2 separate regions of the Homo sapiens genome follow, and region 1 is linked to region 2. The links come from fine-mapping of genetic effects on gene expression. A gene starts in region 2. The other region holds a variant in brackets. All regions are shown on one strand. Distances are between the middles of the regions.

The links. PIP is the estimated chance that this variant, and not a neighbour inherited with it, causes the effect.
Region 1: its variant is fine-mapped to the expression of FOXI1 in whole blood (TOPMed, PIP 0.95).

Annotation. Positions count from the first base shown.
Region 1 is chr5:170,175,815-170,181,184 of GRCh38, forward strand. No RefSeq gene overlaps it. Among named protein-coding and RNA genes, the nearest start is that of LINC01187, 21 kb to the right of the region's middle. The variant C/T (reference allele first, on the strand shown) is at 3,184.
Region 2 is chr5:170,103,771-170,109,140 of GRCh38, forward strand. FOXI1 (forkhead box I1) reads left to right here and starts at 2,127. Exons shown (of 2, transcript NM_012188.5): 1 at 2,127-2,761; 2 at 4,279-5,370. The coding sequence starts at 2,188. The coding sequence ends at 4,841.

The DNA of each region.
Region 1 (5,370 bases), 72 kb after region 2:
CATTACCCTCTCTGACCCATGCCCACCATCAGGTAGGTGGAGAAAACATTATAATAGCCACTGTGGCCTTAGGGGGCATAGGGCTGAGCTGAGAAGACATTTTAGAAATGGAAGCCTATAACAAAGTTTCAGCTGCGGTAACGAGCATCGGGCAGGTAAGAGAGGCAGAGCTTAAAATTTGGAGAAAGAGCTTGCCCTCAGTCTTCCTCCCCCACTTCCTCTCTCCCTTCTACCATCATTCCTTCCCTTCTTTCTCATTCATTCCCTCATTCATTCATTCATTCATTCACTTGTGTGATAAATATTTAGTGAGCACCTGCTGCATTCCAGGCATCTGGCAGGGCTTTGAGTGGCAAACAAACAAGACACGGTCCCTCTCCTATTAATGTGAACAGACAGGTGAGAAATAACACAACATTGACACACGTGAGGGGTGGTTAAGACTTTCTACCTCAGTTCTCTGAACCTGGAAGTTCCTAGAAGGCAAGGGTGGGTGTGTGACAAGGCCCTATCTATACCTTAACCCAGGCCTGCCGCTTTTCCCAGCACAGTGGTTCAGGTGTGGACTCTGGAGATAAAGGGCCTGGGTTCAAATCTTGGCCTAATCACTAGCAGGTGTGGTCGACCACTCTGCGGCCCTCTTCCTTCGCTTATAAAATGGGAATGATTTGGTATCAACCTCACGGAATTGTGGTGAGCACTAAAGAGACGATGCCAGTCAAATGGTGGCTGTGGCTGGAGGGTGAGTATGAGGGCTTTTTCTGGAGTGCTGGCGGTATTCTGCTTTTTGATCTGGGTGCTAATTTCACAGGCGTGCTTGGGGTGTGAACATTCATTGAGCTGCACAATTATGATATGCACACTTTTCTGAAAGTATGTTATACTTCAATGACAAGTTTTGAAAGCCTTAGTCCGATGCCTCTTGTTGAGCTCTGCTAACAACAATGAATGTTATTAATTGTCAGGGTCCTACGGCCATGCTCCCGAGAGATGCTGCACCAGAATCTTCCGAGTCCAGGAGCTTGCTGCTCTCTGGAGCCCTGGAAGGGCAGATTATATTGGGGAAACTGAGGCATTGAGACCCAGAGGCTCAAGGTCATGGGGCTCAGTAGGAGCCAAGTCACCCAGAGCCCAGCAGCACCCTCCCCTTTTACCTCCCTCCTGCCGGCAGCTAGCAGGGGTGTGGGGGCCCATTAAATCCTAGGCAAATGGGCTCTGGGCGCGTGCAGCCCTCAGGTCCCAGGACAGCTCAAACAGGACTGGACTGCCTGGTGCCCCATGGCAGCCGCCCCCTGGCCTCTAAATGATGGTGTGGAGCACTTGGCTGTTTGCAGGGTAAACAGGAGGGCTGGAGCAATGGGAGGCAGGTGTGCTCCACTGCCAAAGCAAAACAGAGCCAGTGCAGGGTTCCCGCACACCCTGGGGGGCCGCTGAGGGCCAGCGGTTGCTATCAGGGTGAACACCAGTTGTCAGTAGAAAAGGAGGCTTTGCTTCATCCACCTCCAGCAAGTTCTTGCACAGTTCATCCTGGCAGCCTCTGGCCTGAGTGAGATAGCAGGGTAAGGTTAACCCTCACCTCCCCAGCACAGAAAGGACTGCAGAAAGCCCCGAGAGCCTCAGGCTGCCTCCACCTCTGTCTCTGCAGTGCCTGGTACAGTTCTTGGCTTCCTGACCAGGAGGCAGCATGGGGAGATAAATACACACAAAGCCAGAATGCGTGGGTTCAAGTCCCGGCTCTCCTGTTCACATTTGTATGACCTGGGGCCAGCTATCTAAACTCATTCCTAATTGCAGCTGCTGTGAATATTGAACACCCAATAACTTAAATAGCTAAACAGCTCAAGTAGGTGAGTCTTGTCTTAGCCAGTTCCCAGTGAATGTCATAATGTGGGCCTAACACTGCCAGATTTGTAGATTTCTCTGGAGACACACAAAACCTAGATTCCTATGTACAATCTCCTGATTTGTAAATGTTGGCAGCTAACCAGAAAACACCCCGTGGCCTATAAAAAACAAGTCTGGCAATTGGGTTTGACCAGTGGCCCTAGTTGTGGACCACAGATCTAATCACATCCTCAGCTCGTTAATGAGAAGACTGAGGACCAGGAAGGAAAAGTGATTTGCCCAACCTGGCACAGTACTGACTGCCAAGACACCAAAACACGCATTGTGGGTTAGGGCATCATGTATGTACACAGCAACTCCTCAAGGTAGGTTGTATAATCCCCACGAAAACTCAGAGGGGTCGAGCAATTTGCCAAAGGTCACCCATTGGCAAGTTCCCAGCCTGGATTCAAATTCCAGGATAAGTCACACTGTCTCCTTAGCACTGAAAAAACTGGAACCCACACCTGTTTCCTGCCCCGTGAGGATGGCACTGCTGTCATGAGACCCACTGTGCCACATCATGGAGAGCAGCCACTGCTCCTGCCTGCTCACCTGAACTGTCTCCCAAATGCCCAGAGAGGACACCTTAACCCTTGCAAGACAAGAAAGAGTGTCGGGCTGTCTTTCTTAGAAAAGTCTTTATTATTAAGCAATATATAAATATTTTGTCATTATAAAAAAATCAAGTGACAGAAAAGATAAAGAGTTTGTCTCTAATTCCACTCCCTTCTTAGGTGCAATACTATTATTAGTGGTAATGCCACCTCCTTATAGACCCCCCACATCTTTTTTTTTTGCAGTTCTGCTCTTGTTGCCAAGGCTGGAGTGCAATGGCACAATCTTGACTCACTGCAGCCTCCACCTCCCAGGTTCAAGCGATGCTCCCGCCTCAGCCTCCAAAGTAGCTGGGATTATAGAGGCTTCCACCACCACACCTGGCTGATGTTTTTTTTTTTTTGTTTTTTTTTTTTTTGGTATTTTTAGTAGAGATGGGGTTTTACCATGTTGGCCAGGCTGGTCTCGAACTCCTGGCCTCAGGTGATCCGCCCACCTCAGCCCCCCAAAGTGCTGGGATTACAGGCATGAGCCACCGTGAGTGGCCCTTATGGACCCTTCCTTTGGAAAGCTCTCAAAGTTGCCCCAGGAGCTGGCTGAGGGCCTGGGCCGGTCTGAGACACAGGGCGGCTGAGCCGGCCATCACTGGGCAAGACAAGCCCTCTGGCCAAGAGCATTTCCCAAGAAGCCAATGACCATAGAAGGCCTTCAAGAGGTTGCGAGAGCTGCGTAGATAACACC[C/T]GAGGATCAGGAAGTAAGAAGTCCCAAGGCGGTGCTTCCCATTGCGGCTAGGTCAGAACCACCAGCCCCAGGCAGAGGGAGGTGTCTCTAGTTCTTTCTCAGGCCTTCAGGTAGTATCAAGCTGAAAAGTCTTGAGAGCTGCTAGGATGTCTCAATGCCTCTGCAACTCTTGCTCTCTCATTTTAACAAGCAGAGGGCAGGCCTGCTAAGTCATAGCACTTCTGCAAGCCGCAATGCCTAGCTATAATTGAGTGGCTTTGTTCTGTTTTTATCATCTTCATTTTACAGTAGCCTTCTATTTATGGCCATGCTGGTTGTCCATTTATAACCAGTGATAGAGATTTCCTCTTAGAAATAAAGTTTGAGGGTTTTTTCGGTTTAAATTAAAATAGTAAATAAATAATGTTTCAGGTGATAGACAGAAATGACAACAATCATTCTGTTGGGAAGGAGATGGCTGGATTCTGGCACACGCTGTCTTAGATAGATGAGACGGCCTTCTTTTTTTTTTTTTTTTTTTTTTTGGACCGAGTCTCACTCTGTCGCCCAGGCTAGAGTGCAGTGGCGTGATCTCATCTCACTGCCAGCTCCGCCACCCGGGTTCACGCCATTCTTCTGCCTCAGCCTCCTGAGTAGCTGGGACCACAGGCGCCTGCCACCATGACCAGCTAATTTTTTGTATTGAGGATGGCCTTCTTAACAAAGCCCTGAAAGAGGTTGTCCAGCCACCCTGGAGGCACGCGGCGTCAGGCCTGAACTGCACAGTGGCTGGATTTACGAGGAATGAGCAGCAGTAAGCCCAGGAGAATGTGAAACCAAAATGCCCTGTGATGACCCAGACAAGACCAGAGTCACTCCTGGAATCTCCATAAAGTCGGTCAGGGCAAACTCGAGGACACAGAGTGAGTCTCTCAGCCTCCCTCTTCATGGATCTGTTGTTTCTCAGCAAGACCTGGGGACTGACATCAGTCTGGTGTAGTGCAAAGAGCCCTGGACCAGAGTTCCAAGGCCTCAGTTCCAGGGTCAGGGCTGTTGTAATGAACAGCTCTGTCCTCCTGGGGGTTGAAAGGGCAGGTGGTACAGTTAAGACTGTGTGCGTTCAAAATCCTTCTCTTCACTTTCTGAGTTTGTTTCTTTCCTCAAATTACTTACCTTCTTGTGCCTCAATTTCCTCATTTATAAAATGGGAATAATAATGGTTCCCATCCTTGGGTCCTTGTAAGGATTAATTAAAATAAATCATTTGAAGTACTCAGCAGAGGGTCAGCAAGGAACAAAGCTAAGACTCAATGGATATGAGCTGTCATCACTACGTTTATGATGATCATGAGTGTTTTACTAAACAGAAGTCTGCTCATATCAGGGGACTTTGAAACCTTTCTACTCTGTCTTGATGCTCCAAGATTCCTATATTCGCATCCAGCTCAGCTTTTGGCTATGGAACCTTAGGCAAGATGTTCATAAACCCTTTAATCTCTAGTGCCCTTGTTCATAAAAAGAAGTGAATCGGATCCCTGCAGGACTGTTTTTGTATTCAGTGCACAGGTGTGTGTGAAGACACCCAGCATGTTGCCAGGCACACAGAGATGTCTACCTTGATACTTTTCTCTCCTCCTCCCCGCAAATACACACACACACACACACACACACACACACACACACTCACACACTCTTATTTTGATCTCGGCCTGAGGCTGACAAGCCCCAGATTAGTGATCAGTGACAATTTCGGCTTTATCAGCTCCACTCAGGGGTATTTGCATATTGGTAGAGAATCTGGAACAGGAAAACACCTCCTGTCTCAAAAGAGTGAATTGCAAATGGTAGGATTATCAGATTTCATTCATTTACTCATTTCATTCACTGAGGACTTGTTTGTGAAGTGGCCTTCTAACAACTTCATTTCATTACAAAAAAAAATGATGTATGTGTTTAGAAAAAAGTGAACAATTCAGAGACAAAAAATACATTCAATAGACCCTTTTTTTTTTCTTTTTGAGACAGAGTCTCGCTCTGTTGCCCAGCCTGGAGTGCGGTGGCACAATCTTGGCTCACCGCAAGCTCCGCCTCCCGGGTTCATGCCATTCTCCTACTTCAGCCTCCCAAGTAGCTGGGACTACAGGCGCCCGCCACCACGCCCGGCTAATTTTTTGTGTTTTTAGTAGATACGGGGTTTCACTGTGTTAG
Region 2 (5,370 bases):
GTTAATTGTAAGGCTTTGAGTCTGTACTAGGGGACTCCAATGTGACTGCTCTTTGAAAAGTCAGGGCTCCACCTTCAGCAAGCCAGGCCTCCTCATAGAGAAACTGTACCAAACAAAAATTCTGCCTCTGGCTTGGCTCTGCAAAGTGTGCCTTACTCTAAGCCTCATCTGGACAGCCAGAGCCTTTCAGAGAGTCACATTTCATCACTGTTTTATGGTGGGGACAGGTTCCTCTGGGCCTAACATGACCACTCCTACCCAGTTACCTGGAACTCATCCTCTGGGCACCAATATGCTGAAAATGAAGTTTATTCAGTCTCATTCATGTTTGCCACATGTGTCCCCACATAACCATGAAAGAGGAGCAGAGAGGGGAAGAATTCTTTGGGGAGCATCCTCTCCAGTTGGGACAGTCAGTGACCTCTTTCTCTTGCCTCAAAGAAAGTAGGGCATGCAGGAAGTGGGAGGAAGCTGGATGGGAAGAAGAAGGAGGCAAGCGGGAGCGAGGTGGTGACCAGAGGGGCTGACCCCAACTTTTCTCCCATCTGCTTCATCACAGAGAGAAGTCTCAGCTGCTACCAGAACCTGGTCAGGGGCCAGCGCCTACCCTCTGAGTAGGGAGACCACCACCCATGGCCCAAGCTGAGGGCCTGACCTGGGGCACCAGGGGAGGCTGGGACAAGATGGAGGATGGAGCCCAGATAGGAGAGGAGCTGGCTGAGCCACAGGGAGAAGCCAGCAGGGGCTGCAGCTCCTGCTTCTGGAGCCTGAGGGAGAGAGAGAGAGGACGCCTGGGGCATGGTGAGTCGGGCGCTCTCCTCGTGCCCTGGCTGCCTCCATGCCAGGGGCCTCTGCGAGCTGAAACATGAAAGGTCTTTGGATCAGAGAGGAGCTGGGAGCCTGCTTGCCCTGCAGCTGGAAAGAAACTTGAATTGTTCAAGTTCTCTCACTTTTCCCTGAAGACTGATTCCCCATTTTCCCCTTTTGCTATTATTTTTAAGAGCCTTGCTGCTCTCCAGGCAAATTCTCAGGTTCTCTGCCCGTCTGCAGCATGTATGCATATGCGTGTGTGTGTGCGTGCGTGTGTGCGCGTGCGTGCGTGGGCGTGTGCGCGTGTGTGGGCGTGCGCGTGTGCGTGTGCGCGTGTGTGCGTGTGCGCGTACGCGTGTGTGCGTGTATGTGTGTGTTGGGGGAGGCTGCGGTGCCTATGACTGGTTGCCCCCTTGAACCCCACCAGAAGCCAGCCCAGGCCCCTCTGCGCCCTCTTCTGAGTCTCCAGGGCCGGTTCTCTCCTGGCAACTCCAGAAAGTGCCTCCTCACCTCAAAAGACCAAGAAACAGGGTTTCTGATAAAGTGTCCCACCCAGTCCCGGCTGGGGCAGTTGGTTAGAGAATGAGGGGACATTGGGGGGAAGAGGAGGGAGAATGAGGGGATGGGAAGAGAGGCGCAGAGAAAATGAGAGGTGGAGAGAAAGGGACAGAGTGAAAGAGAAGGAGAAAGGGGAGAAGCCGGGAAGACAATGAGAATGGAAGCGAGAGATGGAAGTGGAAAGAAGAACTGGAAGCCTAGAGACAGAGGGAGAGAGGGAGAGAGGGAGGGGGAGAGAGAGAGAGAGAGAGAGAGAACGGGAATGAGCAGCTGTGATGTGGCCAGATCAGTTCATAGAAAAGAAACACAGTTCAGAGCAGAAGGGAGGAAAGAAAATAAGAAGGAAAGAAACAGAGAATGAGATGCAGAGAGGAGAGGAGGGAGAGAGAGAAGGAAACCGAGGTGGGTAGAAAAATGTGACGAAAGGGAAGGACAGAAAAAAAAATGAGAGAAGTAAGACAGAATAAAGGAGAAAAAGAAGAAGGGAATCATGAGGATGGTGAGAAAAGACAGGAGAGAAAGCCGGGAGAGAGGATAGAGGGGCGTTCTCGCTGCGCTGCGTGTCAGCTCTGGTAAGCCGTCTAGCATGTCATTAGTGGGGACCTGAGGCGCCAGCGGGAAAGTCCCCTCCCCGTGGGCTGGAGGCTGAGGGAGGGCGGGCCCTGGGCTGGGATCCACAGGCAGGTGGCCGCCCCTGGGTGGGGCCGCCCGGCCAAGCCCTAGGGGTATAAGTGGGAGGCCGGGCCTGCTGAGCACCTGTCAGGGGCAGCTCCGGGGTGCAGGTGCCAGGCAGGTGGCTCCGGCCAGCCCAGCCCCAGCATGAGCTCCTTCGACCTGCCGGCGCCCTCCCCACCTCGCTGCAGCCCCCAGTTCCCCAGCATCGGCCAGGAGCCCCCCGAGATGAACCTCTACTATGAGAACTTCTTCCACCCACAGGGCGTGCCCAGCCCTCAGCGGCCCTCCTTCGAGGGGGGCGGCGAGTATGGGGCCACCCCCAACCCCTACCTCTGGTTCAACGGGCCCACCATGACCCCGCCACCCTACCTGCCCGGCCCCAACGCCAGCCCCTTCCTGCCCCAGGCCTATGGAGTGCAGAGGCCGCTGCTGCCCAGCGTGTCGGGGCTTGGGGGGAGCGACCTGGGCTGGCTGCCCATCCCCTCGCAGGAGGAGCTGATGAAGCTGGTGCGGCCACCCTATTCCTACTCGGCTCTCATCGCCATGGCCATCCACGGGGCACCCGACAAGCGCCTCACTCTCAGCCAGATCTACCAGTACGTGGCCGACAACTTCCCCTTCTACAACAAGAGCAAGGCCGGCTGGCAGAACTCCATCCGCCACAACCTGTCGCTCAACGACTGCTTCAAGAAGGTGCCCCGCGACGAGGACGACCCGGGTAAGGAGGCTTTGAGTGTGGGGGGTGTCCCCAAGGAAGACTCACTTCCTTCCTCCCCAAGACCCCATTCTAGAAAGTTCTGACTAGGGCTGTGCCCCCCAAGACTGGGGGATGCTACCAGGCAGGACAGAGGGGAGCTCAGCAGTGAAGGAGAGCATGGGCCTGGGGGAAGATTTGGGTTTCAGCCCTGGCTGTGCTCCTGCCCAGTCAGTGACCTCTGGCAGGTTAGACCTCAGAGCCTCAGTTCCCTCATCGGAAAACCAGGGATAGTGACAGCATCTGCTTTGCAGGCTGCAGTGGAGGTGATGAGATAATGTACACAAGGTTTTAGGTGTTATCAAGCGCTTAATCGCCTGCAGTAATTACGATTCATCTGCATCTCCAGCACCCAGCACATAGAAAGTCTTTGGTGAATGAATGACTGGACCAACCAAAGCCCAAGGGCATCCCAAGACTGCCAGGAAGAGGATCTGACCTGGGTTAAACAGCCACTAATGGCCCATTTTGCTGCCTGCCTTGTTTCTACTTAGGTAACCTCCTTTAACCCGAAGACACCCCTGCAGGGTAGCTCTTATGAAACCCATTCTACAGATTAGGAAAATAACACTCAGAGGTGACACAGAATGAAGTGATAGTGATGGAGCTTGAATTTGAACTCAGTTTTCTCTAACATCAGAAATTGTGAGCTTTTCCTTTTCAACGATGCATTTCTAAAACTCAGAGACCTGCAGAGAGGCATGTATTAAATACTCATGCATCCATTTCCCAGAATTAAAGTCCACTTTTGTTCCACCGCAGGAAGCCAAGGTATAGCTCAAAGGAACCCCAACTCTGCCCCATTTGAGGGTGGCAAACACCAGGCCTGTTTGTCCCCAGAAGAGGGCAAGTGTCCTGTCCAAGGACTGCCATCACCCTCAGGCTGAGAGACGGTAGCAGGAAGAGTTCAGGCCTTCCCTCGGGAAGGTACCTCCCAGCTGCAACGCTCCTTTCCATATCCGGTGTGGATCCTTTCTCAGTGGGCCTGAGGAAGACAGGGGCAATGGGCCCACTTTTCAGACTAGAAAACAGGTTCTTCCAAAGCCCCTCAGTCAGTGAGGAGCAAAGCCAGGACTCAAGTCTGTCTTCAGACTCCAAGCCTACGGCTATTAGGGAGTCCCAGAGTTTTCCTGAGTCTTCTTTTCCTTCAGCATTGAAAGCCCTCCAACCCCCAACCCCCAAATCCCTCAGCATCCCTGCTCCCAGTTCTTCATCCTTCTTAAAGAGACCTACATTGCAAACTCCTTAATGCTCATGCCTCTCGGCTGCAGTCCCAAAGGGCCCTGTCATGGGCTGCTTAATTAAAGATGGAGGTGGTGTGGTTCATCAGTTGATGGAATTCCTCCATTTCTCAGTCCCTGCCTGTCGGTCTCTGTCTTCCTGCATCTGTCACCTTGGCTTTTAGTTTATGACAATAAGGAGGAACAGAAGCAAAGCATTTTGTCCACCTCTCTATTTACCCCCTTTCACTTTTGTATCAGGCAAAGGGAATTACTGGACCCTGGACCCCAACTGTGAGAAAATGTTCGACAATGGAAATTTCCGCAGGAAAAGGAAGAGAAAATCAGATGTTTCCTCTAGCACAGCCTCCTTGGCCTTAGAGAAGACAGAGAGCAGTCTCCCGGTGGACAGCCCCAAGACCACGGAGCCTCAGGACATCTTGGATGGAGCCTCACCAGGGGGCACCACCAGCTCCCCAGAGAAGCGGCCCTCCCCTCCCCCATCAGGCGCCCCTTGCCTTAACAGCTTCCTTTCCTCTATGACAGCCTATGTGAGCGGGGGGAGCCCCACGAGCCACCCCTTGGTCACACCAGGACTGAGCCCTGAGCCCAGTGACAAGACGGGGCAGAACTCACTGACCTTCAACTCCTTCTCCCCGCTCACCAACCTCAGCAACCACAGCGGTGGGGGTGACTGGGCGAACCCCATGCCCACCAACATGCTCAGCTATGGAGGATCTGTGCTCAGCCAATTCAGCCCTCACTTCTACAACAGTGTCAACACCAGTGGTGTCCTCTACCCCAGGGAGGGCACCGAGGTCTAGGTACAGAACAGCTCCTGAGCCAGGTGGACATGCCAGAGAGAAAAGCAGTAGAGGTCCTCCATGCCAGCCCCACGGTGGTCCATGACTGCGGAACTGCCCAGACATAAGCAGGAGCCTCCGAGGAATCCACCCTCTTTCTAGAACACTGGTTAAGGCTTCTGTTTATCACACATAGGCCCACACACAGACTCACCAACTTTGCAATAGAAATACTGGTGCCTGCAGAGCAGCACTAACAGTGGCAGGTGCTGTACTAGGCTCTGTACTGGCCACACTTACTATTGACAGTCACCCCGTAAGGTTCACAAACCACCCCATTGAACAGATGAGGAACTGAGGCTCAAGGAGGTTAAGTAACATTTCCAGGGTTATATAAACTAGTAAATGGCAGAGCTAAGAGTCAAATCCAGGTCTATGTGATCCTCAGAGATTGGAGGCCGGGATGGAGAATTGGTTGAGTAGCCAAGGAAGGTCAGTGTGAAAAGCTTGCTATGGCAAATATAGCGAAATCTCTCCACTGCCTTCTGTC